Linked DNA regions of Homo sapiens. The protein of the gene in region 1 purifies or fractionates together with the protein of each later gene. This does not show direct contact. Each region holds a gene or a part of one and is shown in the gene's direction. Other genes may lie near its edges. The genes, in order: HMMR and MAPK1.

The links.
Region 2: the proteins of HMMR (region 1) and MAPK1 purify together in Homo sapiens (affinity purification with mass spectrometry; 4 studies listed by BioGRID and IntAct, with this or other methods). This does not show direct contact.

What each region holds. Positions count from the first base shown.
Region 1 is NC_000005.10:163,477,616-163,481,436, forward strand, and holds part of HMMR (hyaluronan mediated motility receptor), read left to right. Parts: intron 1-1,068; coding exon 1,069-1,185; intron 1,186-3,821. UniProt on the Homo sapiens protein: Receptor for hyaluronic acid (HA). Involved in cell motility. When hyaluronan binds to HMMR, the phosphorylation of a number of proteins, including PTK2/FAK1 occurs.
Region 2 is NC_000022.11:21,860,961-21,864,781, reverse strand, and holds part of MAPK1 (mitogen-activated protein kinase 1), read left to right. Parts: intron 1-3,821. UniProt on the Homo sapiens protein: Serine/threonine kinase which acts as an essential component of the MAP kinase signal transduction pathway. MAPK1/ERK2 and MAPK3/ERK1 are the 2 MAPKs which play an important role in the MAPK/ERK cascade.

The sequences.
Region 1 (3,821 bases):
AATTTTTTATTCCAACTCAAAAAACTGTGGTCCAATGGTCAAGAGATAAGGATTTTTATTACTAATTCTGTTAGCTAGCTGGTTGATTCTGAGCAAAACAATCTTAGTTTCTTTGATCTTCTACTTCATTAGATATAAAAGAGTTTTATTAGATGGTCTCTAAGATCCCTTCTAGCCTGGAAATTTCAAGCTTAAGAGAAAAACAAACTAAGAATTGAAAATAATTCCTCTAGGGGACAGGGAAGAAAATATTTTTATTATAAACTCTTTAGTCATATTTGATTGCTCTTGCTGTGGTGTGTATATTTTTGAAATCCGGCACTTGTTACAGAATGAATTTGATCAGCTATTTTTCTTATCTCAGTGTCCAACTTAGTCTATAAGTACACAATGCTTATTTACAATTTTTAGTTCTGTATATTCTTTAAAAGATCTCTCATAAGCTCATATGCATATCTAAAAATTTTATCACCACTTTGGAAATATATTATTTCCAAAATATCCCTGAGATTTAATAGCATATGTATATAAAAATGACTTAAAACCCATTCTGTCTATGCAAAATAATCCATTAAAGAAGTTATTAAGTCTTTCAGTAATAGAGTATTATGTGGGTTATTCATATAATCAGAATAAATCCACAAAGTCTTGTAACTCTGTAGTTTAAAATGAAGTGGCTTTAATTGTTCATGGTATTTCTCAAGTGTCTAAATGGAGAGAATGAAACTTTATTCAATCCAGATGTTTTTTGACTGGTAATCTTTTGCAGTCTTTAGTCCTGGCTAGTATCTTAAGATTTGGTTTTATAGTCTTTTATATCCTACTACCTTCTTCACCCAAATTTTTAAAGTAAAATAAGCAGGAAAGATAAGTTGAAGCTAGTAGAAAAATGCATAAAAAACATGCTTTCGAGGTAAGTCATAAATTAGGATCTGAGCTATTTAGCAGGTAATGCAGTGGTGAAGATATGAGCTATATGATTCACAGTTTCAAAGGTAAATACTATTTTCTTTCTTAGGGTAGTAATTGTAGGTGGCATTTTATCTTTCAATTATTTCTTTTTCTTAGGAAGGAGGCTGAACTGGAGAAAAGTAGTGCTGCTCATACCCAGGCCACCCTGCTTTTGCAGGAAAAGTATGACAGTATGGTGCAAAGCCTTGAAGATGTTACTGCTCAATTTGAAAGGTATTTTTCTTGGGAGCCTGCACTCTTAAATATGATGTGTGCAGAAAGGGGTGTTTACCCCAGGAAATATGTGAGCAAAGCAGTCACACAAAGGATGATTCATACTAGTTTAAATTCCATAATCACCAACCGTAAGTGGGCATTTAGCATTATCTGGTAATCTTATTGTATTTATATAATTCCCCTTTATAATTTATAGAAATTCCCCTTTCTCACCATCCACTTCAACTTTTATGTGCTGAGCCAGGTGCGGCAGCATATGCCTGTAGTCCTAGCCACTGCATAAGCTGAGGTGGGAGGATCAAGTCATGTACTTAGAAGCATTTGGTGCTTCTGCCCTACTCTCTTGATGTTATCATTTTCATAAAGAATTCAGAAGTTTTTATCTCTTGCTAAACCTATAAAGAGACCCACATTTATACTCATCCTATCTTCCCACCTATTACAGATGAAATGTCCTAGTCTTTTAATCTTCAGTGACCTCATTCTATCATTTTGTTTTCTCATAATTTGAAACCTTTTTACTGGAATTTTTCCAATCAATATTAAAACATGTTAATGTACATCTGTCTGTAAAATATATTAATTAGCTGGCCACTGTGGCTCATACCAGTAATCCCAGTGCTTTGGGAGACCAAGGCAGGAGGATTGCTTGAGGTCAGGAGTTTGAGACCAGCCTGGGCAATAGAGTAAGACCTTGTTTCTACAAAAAAAAATATTAAGAATTAGCCAGGCATTGTGGCACATGCTACTTGGGAGGCTGAGGGCAGGAGGATCACCTGAGCCCAGGAGTTCCAGGCTGCACTGAGCTAAGATCACACCACTGCGCTCCAGCCTGGGTGACAGAGCAAGACTGTCTCAAAAACAAACGAAAAATAAATAAAATACATAAGTTGTTTTAAATACTTCTCTGACCCTAACTTCCTTTTGTAGCTGTCTCACACCACCAGTCATTCCCTTCTTAACCCCAAATTCTACTCCTTTTCAGTCCTTTTCCTTCTCCTCCTTTTTCTTCTCTTGACAGAGAAGATTGTCTCTATATCCACTTCCTCACCTCCCATGCCTTCTACTTATTTTCTCCTTAAATAAAAAGTTTATTTTGGGTGGAACTACAAATTACAAAGGCCAATATAATGAATACCTATATATTAATGTTAACATTTTTATTTATCACATTTACTTTAGCTCATTTTGGGGGAGAGTTTCCTTTCTTTTATTTAATAAATACAAAAGAATGCATAACATGTACATAAACTGTAGAGCTTGAAGATAAAACTGACATGCATGAACCTATAAAAGACAACCAGTAAGCCAAAAGATTTTCAACAACTTAGTATCCATATGTAAGTTCCTCTGCCATCCCATGAAAATGGGACAGATAACACTGTCCTGAAGTCTACACTAATTATTTCCTTGCTTTTTCCCCCCTGTGTATTATAATTTTATGACACGTATATCCATACAAATAATGCATTATGTAATTTTCCTTCTCCTTGAACTTTACCAAAAAATGTCATCATAGTATATGCCGTTTCCTGGGACTTATTTTTTCATTCTGCATTATGTGTGTTTTCAGGATTGAATTGTGTTGTCTGAGGCTATGGTTTGTTGATAGTCACTGCTATGAGTATTTTATTGTATGAATATACCACAACTTATTTATTCATTCTTTGGACTTTGAGTTGTTTCCCATTTGGTTAGTTATTATTAGTTATTTTGTGACTATAAGAATACATGTATGTAAGAATTTCTCTAAAGCCAAAGGTATATGAATGTTCAACTCTAAAACTTAATATCAAATCACTTTCCAATGTGGGAGTAAGAATCTACACTCCCACTAGTGTTGTATAAGTTTCCATTTATCTTCTTTGCCAAAGCTTGTTAGACTTCTTAAACTTTGCCAGTGTACTTAGTGTAAAATGGCTTCTTATTGTGGATAATTCATCTTTCCTTTTCCATAAAATGCTTGTTTATGACTTTTGTTTATTTGTCTATAGGGTTATCATCTTTTCCTCATTGATTTGTAGAGGTTTTCTTTATCAGCCATATGGGTTACAGGTATCTTCTGCCAGTTTAGCTTATTTTTTTATTTTCTTTTTGGTTTCTTCTGATGAGTGGAAATTCTTGATTTCAATATGGTTAAAATATTTATCTGTATGTGGGTACTTTTGCTTCTCATTTAAGAACTTCTTTCTATCTCAAGGTGTAAAGATATTCAACCAGTTTTCTTCTAAAAGTCTTAAAATTTCACTTTCCATTTTTCCACCTAGAACTGATTTCTGTGTGTGTAGCAATATAGGGATCAAATTCATTTTTTGTTTTCCCTATGGACAACCAACTGCCTAGTTTAATTTAATTCATTAAATTGTACCTTGTTTCCCCAGTGATCTGTTCCCACATGTGATACATTATGACAGACACATAGATAAATAATTTATAAGTGTATATGTTTTATTTATAATTTTTATTGTATCAGAACATATAAATCATATAAATATATGTAAATTTTATATATATATATTTATTGCTAATATCAATCCTGTAAAGGAATTTCCCTTCTCGTTAGTTTGAAGAATAGTGCTTCAGGGGGTTTTTATCTATTCTGTGATTTTAGTCACTATCCATATACTCGTGGC
Region 2 (3,821 bases), on another chromosome or scaffold:
TGTGACTATTTTGTTTAGAGTCCTTTCCTAATGATTATGTAGAGGATGTAAAGATGAAGAGTGGGATTTGAGTTGGGCCTTTAAGAGTGGGTGTGATTTTGATATGCAGATAATAGGAACAAGTGACAGCTTGAGCTGTGGAATCTAATCTTGGAAATGTACTTAGGTGGCAAACTGTAGAGGACTCCAAAGGCAAAACTAAGTTTGACTGTATATTTGTTCAGTGGAGGAAGCATCTTATTTATTTATTTATTTGTTTATTTTTTTTTTTGAGGTGGAGTCTCACTCTTGTTGCCTAGGCTGTAGTGCAGTGGCATGACCTCGGCTCACTGCAACCTCTGCCTCCTAGGTTCAAGCGATTCTCCTGCCTCAGCCTCCTGAGTAGCTGGGACTACAGGCGCGTGCCACCATGCTCAGCTAATTTTTTTTTTGTATTTTTGTAGAGACAGCGTTTTGCCATGTTGGCCAAGATGGTCTCAAACTCCTGACCTCAGGTGGTCCCCCTGACTTCAGCCTCCCAAAGTGCTGTGATTACAGGCTTTAGTCACCGTGCCCGGCCTTTTTTTGAAAGAGGCAGTCATACATGGTCAATTTTGAAATTTTTTGGGAAGACAAATCAACACTAGTGGGAATGAAGGAAGAAGAACCGGAGTGGAGGAATAAATTAGGAAAGCCTAACCACCTAGAGGTGCAGTAATAAAGTGGCAGCGGAAGGTAGCAGATGGAGGTGAGGAGTTTTGTATTGACAGAAATAGTAACAGGGACCCTTGTGGGAAGAGTGGTAAAAAGACTTTTAATCATGGCAAGTCTGAGTGGAATCAAAGGATTATGAGACCTTAAAGGGTAAGAGACCAAGAGAGGTGGGATTTGGATTTGGAGGGATTTCTGAGATAGAACAAGGCTTGCTGGTTGATTGGCTATGGGCGGTTGTTCATTCTGAGGCCTCTAGGTTGGGAGCCTGGGAGATGGTGGTGCCATTATCCAAGTAAAGGAATACTGTTAGAGCAGATTTGTCAGGGGGAAATAGTTCTGGTTTGAACTTAAGTTTGTAATGCCTGTAGGCCATTCAGGCTATATCCAGAAACCATCTTAAAATTTGTAAGAGGGGAGCAGGAGCTGGAGATGAAAATTTGTGTAAATGGTAGTTAAAATCTTGAGTGGATGAGCACAGATTCTTATCTGGGTCATTGGTTAGGTGAAATTGCAATCATGGCCAGGCGCGGTGGCTCACGCCTATAATCCCAGCACTTTGGGAGGCCCAGGTGGGCGGATCACGAGGTTAGGAGATCGAGACCATCCTGGCTAACATGGTGAAACCCTATCTCTACTAAAAATACAAAAAAAAAAAGTAGCCGGCCGTGGCGGTGTGCGCCTGTAGTCTCAGCTGCTGGGGAGGCTGAGGCAGGAGAATGGTGTGAACCCGGGAGGCAGAGCTTGCAGTGAGCCAAGATCGCGCCACTGTACTCCAGCCTGGGTGACAGAGCAAGACTGGGTCTCAAAAAAAAAAAAAAAAGAAATTGTAATTATATGTTTTCTATATTTATCTTTTTGGTTAAAAAATACATAGCATTTGATAGATTTTCAAATGAGTCCATTATCCTGGAAACATTAAGAACCACTGAAGTAGAACAGAGGACCAACCAGGTAACTCTGGCAAAGAAGAGGAAACTGATGACTGGTCAGATGTATAAGGGAACAGTGTAGACGGGGAGGAGGGAGAGGAGGAGAGATTGAAACACTCTTAGTATGCTTGGTCATCTTAGACTAAGATAGCAAGTGTCTATTTTGGTTTAATTGAGTTTGAAATGCTGTTTCTGAATGCGACAAGAGAGCTCATGGGGTCATCTTCATAGAGATATTAATTGAAGCCTTAAGAGTGGATAAGACATCTGAGAACTAAGCCAAAGGAGTGCCTGCCTTTACTGTGTCAATAAAGGTCAAGTTATGGAAGAGGACAGAGGAAATGTGGCCAGAGAGACCAAAGAACTGGGAGTGCACGTTATCAAAGGAGCCAAGGGAGATGGTACTCATTAAGGGATTGGTATTGAGTACTATAGGAGGGAAACAGAATGCAGCTGACAAGCCATTATATTTGTTGACTTTCAGCTCTTTTTTTTTTTGAGACAGAGTCTTGTTCTGTCGCCCAGGCTGGAGTGCAGTTGCACAATCTCGGCTCACTGCAACCTCCGCCTCCTGGGTTCAAGTGATTCTCTTGCCTCAGCCTCCCGAGTAGCTAGGATTACAGGTGTGTGCCACCACACCCGGCTAATTTTTTTATTTTTAGTAGAGACGGGGTATTGCCATGTTGGCCAGGCTGGTCTCAAACTCCTGACCTCAGGTGATCCCCCTGCTTCAGCCTCCCAAAGTGCTAGGATTACAGTGTGAACCACTGTGCCTGGCCTCTTTTTTTTTTTTTTTAAAGCGGGGATGTTCAACTTGGGAAAGCTGAATGAATAAAAGAAAAAAGAGGGGGATGGTTTCAACTAAAATTTCATTGTGATCACATTCCTGATGGTACAATGTCCTCCTGTCTTGTTAAGGTTATTGTGATTATAGCAGACTAGTAGAACTACCACTTTTTCAGCACTCTTGTTTTGTATTTTACATACATTAATGCTAAGCCATATAACTGTACAGCAAAAGTGGTAACTTCTGTTTGTTTTTTACCCCACAAGTGAAGAAACTTGAGGCACACAGAGGTTAGTTAACTTGCCCAATGACACACAGCTAGGAAGTGATGAAGCAACCCCAGTTTTTCTGGTTCCTAAGTAGTGCTCCACCAAAGATCAGAGTTGAGAAAATAGATTATTTCAGTAACAAGAAATATCTGTTGTCTGCTTTTGCTTGTATCACTTTTTAGCCTTTAAAACCTTTCATGTAGAGTTATTTACTCAGAAAATGTTTATTGAACTCTTCATCCAAATAATGGGATGGAATTGGGGAATAATACAGAGAAGATACCAGTGTTACCCAGGAGTTTGTGAAGTGCTGAGAGGAAGAGAAGAGCTGAGTGACTTGGGGCTGTCTTTCTTTGGCTTCCCAGACTTCTGAGCTAGGTGTTGATGTGTGAGTAGGAGTTTGCCTTGAGAAATGCCTTCTAGGCAAAGCGAAGTGTGCATGTAAAGGCACAGACCGTGAACACAGTGCATCAGGTCAGGAAAACCACAAATTACTTGGGAAGGCTGGAGTGTAGGGTGCCTTAGTAAGAAGGTGGGAGTTGAGACAGCTGGGGGTAGGCAGGGCCAAATCCTGAAGGGCATTATTTGGTAAGGACTTTGGACTTGATCTTGTGGGTGACGGAGTCATTAAAGGATGGCCCTGTTTCTGTCTGCCAGTTCCACTCCCACTTTATCTCTTATGCTTTCTGCCCATTTTGCCTACTTACTTACTTTTTTTTTGAGACAGAGTTTTGCTTGGAGGCTCACTGCAACCTTGCCTCCTGGGTTCAAGCAATTCTGCCTCAGCCTCCTGAGTGGCTGGGATTACAGGTGTGTGCTACCATGCCTGGCTAATTTTTGTATTTTTAGTAGAGACAGGATTTCGCCATGTTGTCCAGGCTGGTCTCAAACTCCTGACCTCAGGTGATCCACCTGCCTCGGCCTCCCAAAGTGCTGGGATTACAGGCGTGAGCCATTGCACCTGGCCGCATTGTGCCTACTTTATCTCGTGGTACTCAGTGGGGGTGATTTTACCTCCCTGCTACAGAGGCATTTGGAAATGTATAGGGGGGCGGCTTTTTGTTGTGTTGTCACGTTGATTAGGGGGTGTTATTGGCCGTCAGTAGGCATGTCAAGGGCAGACATGCTAAATGGTCTGGATTG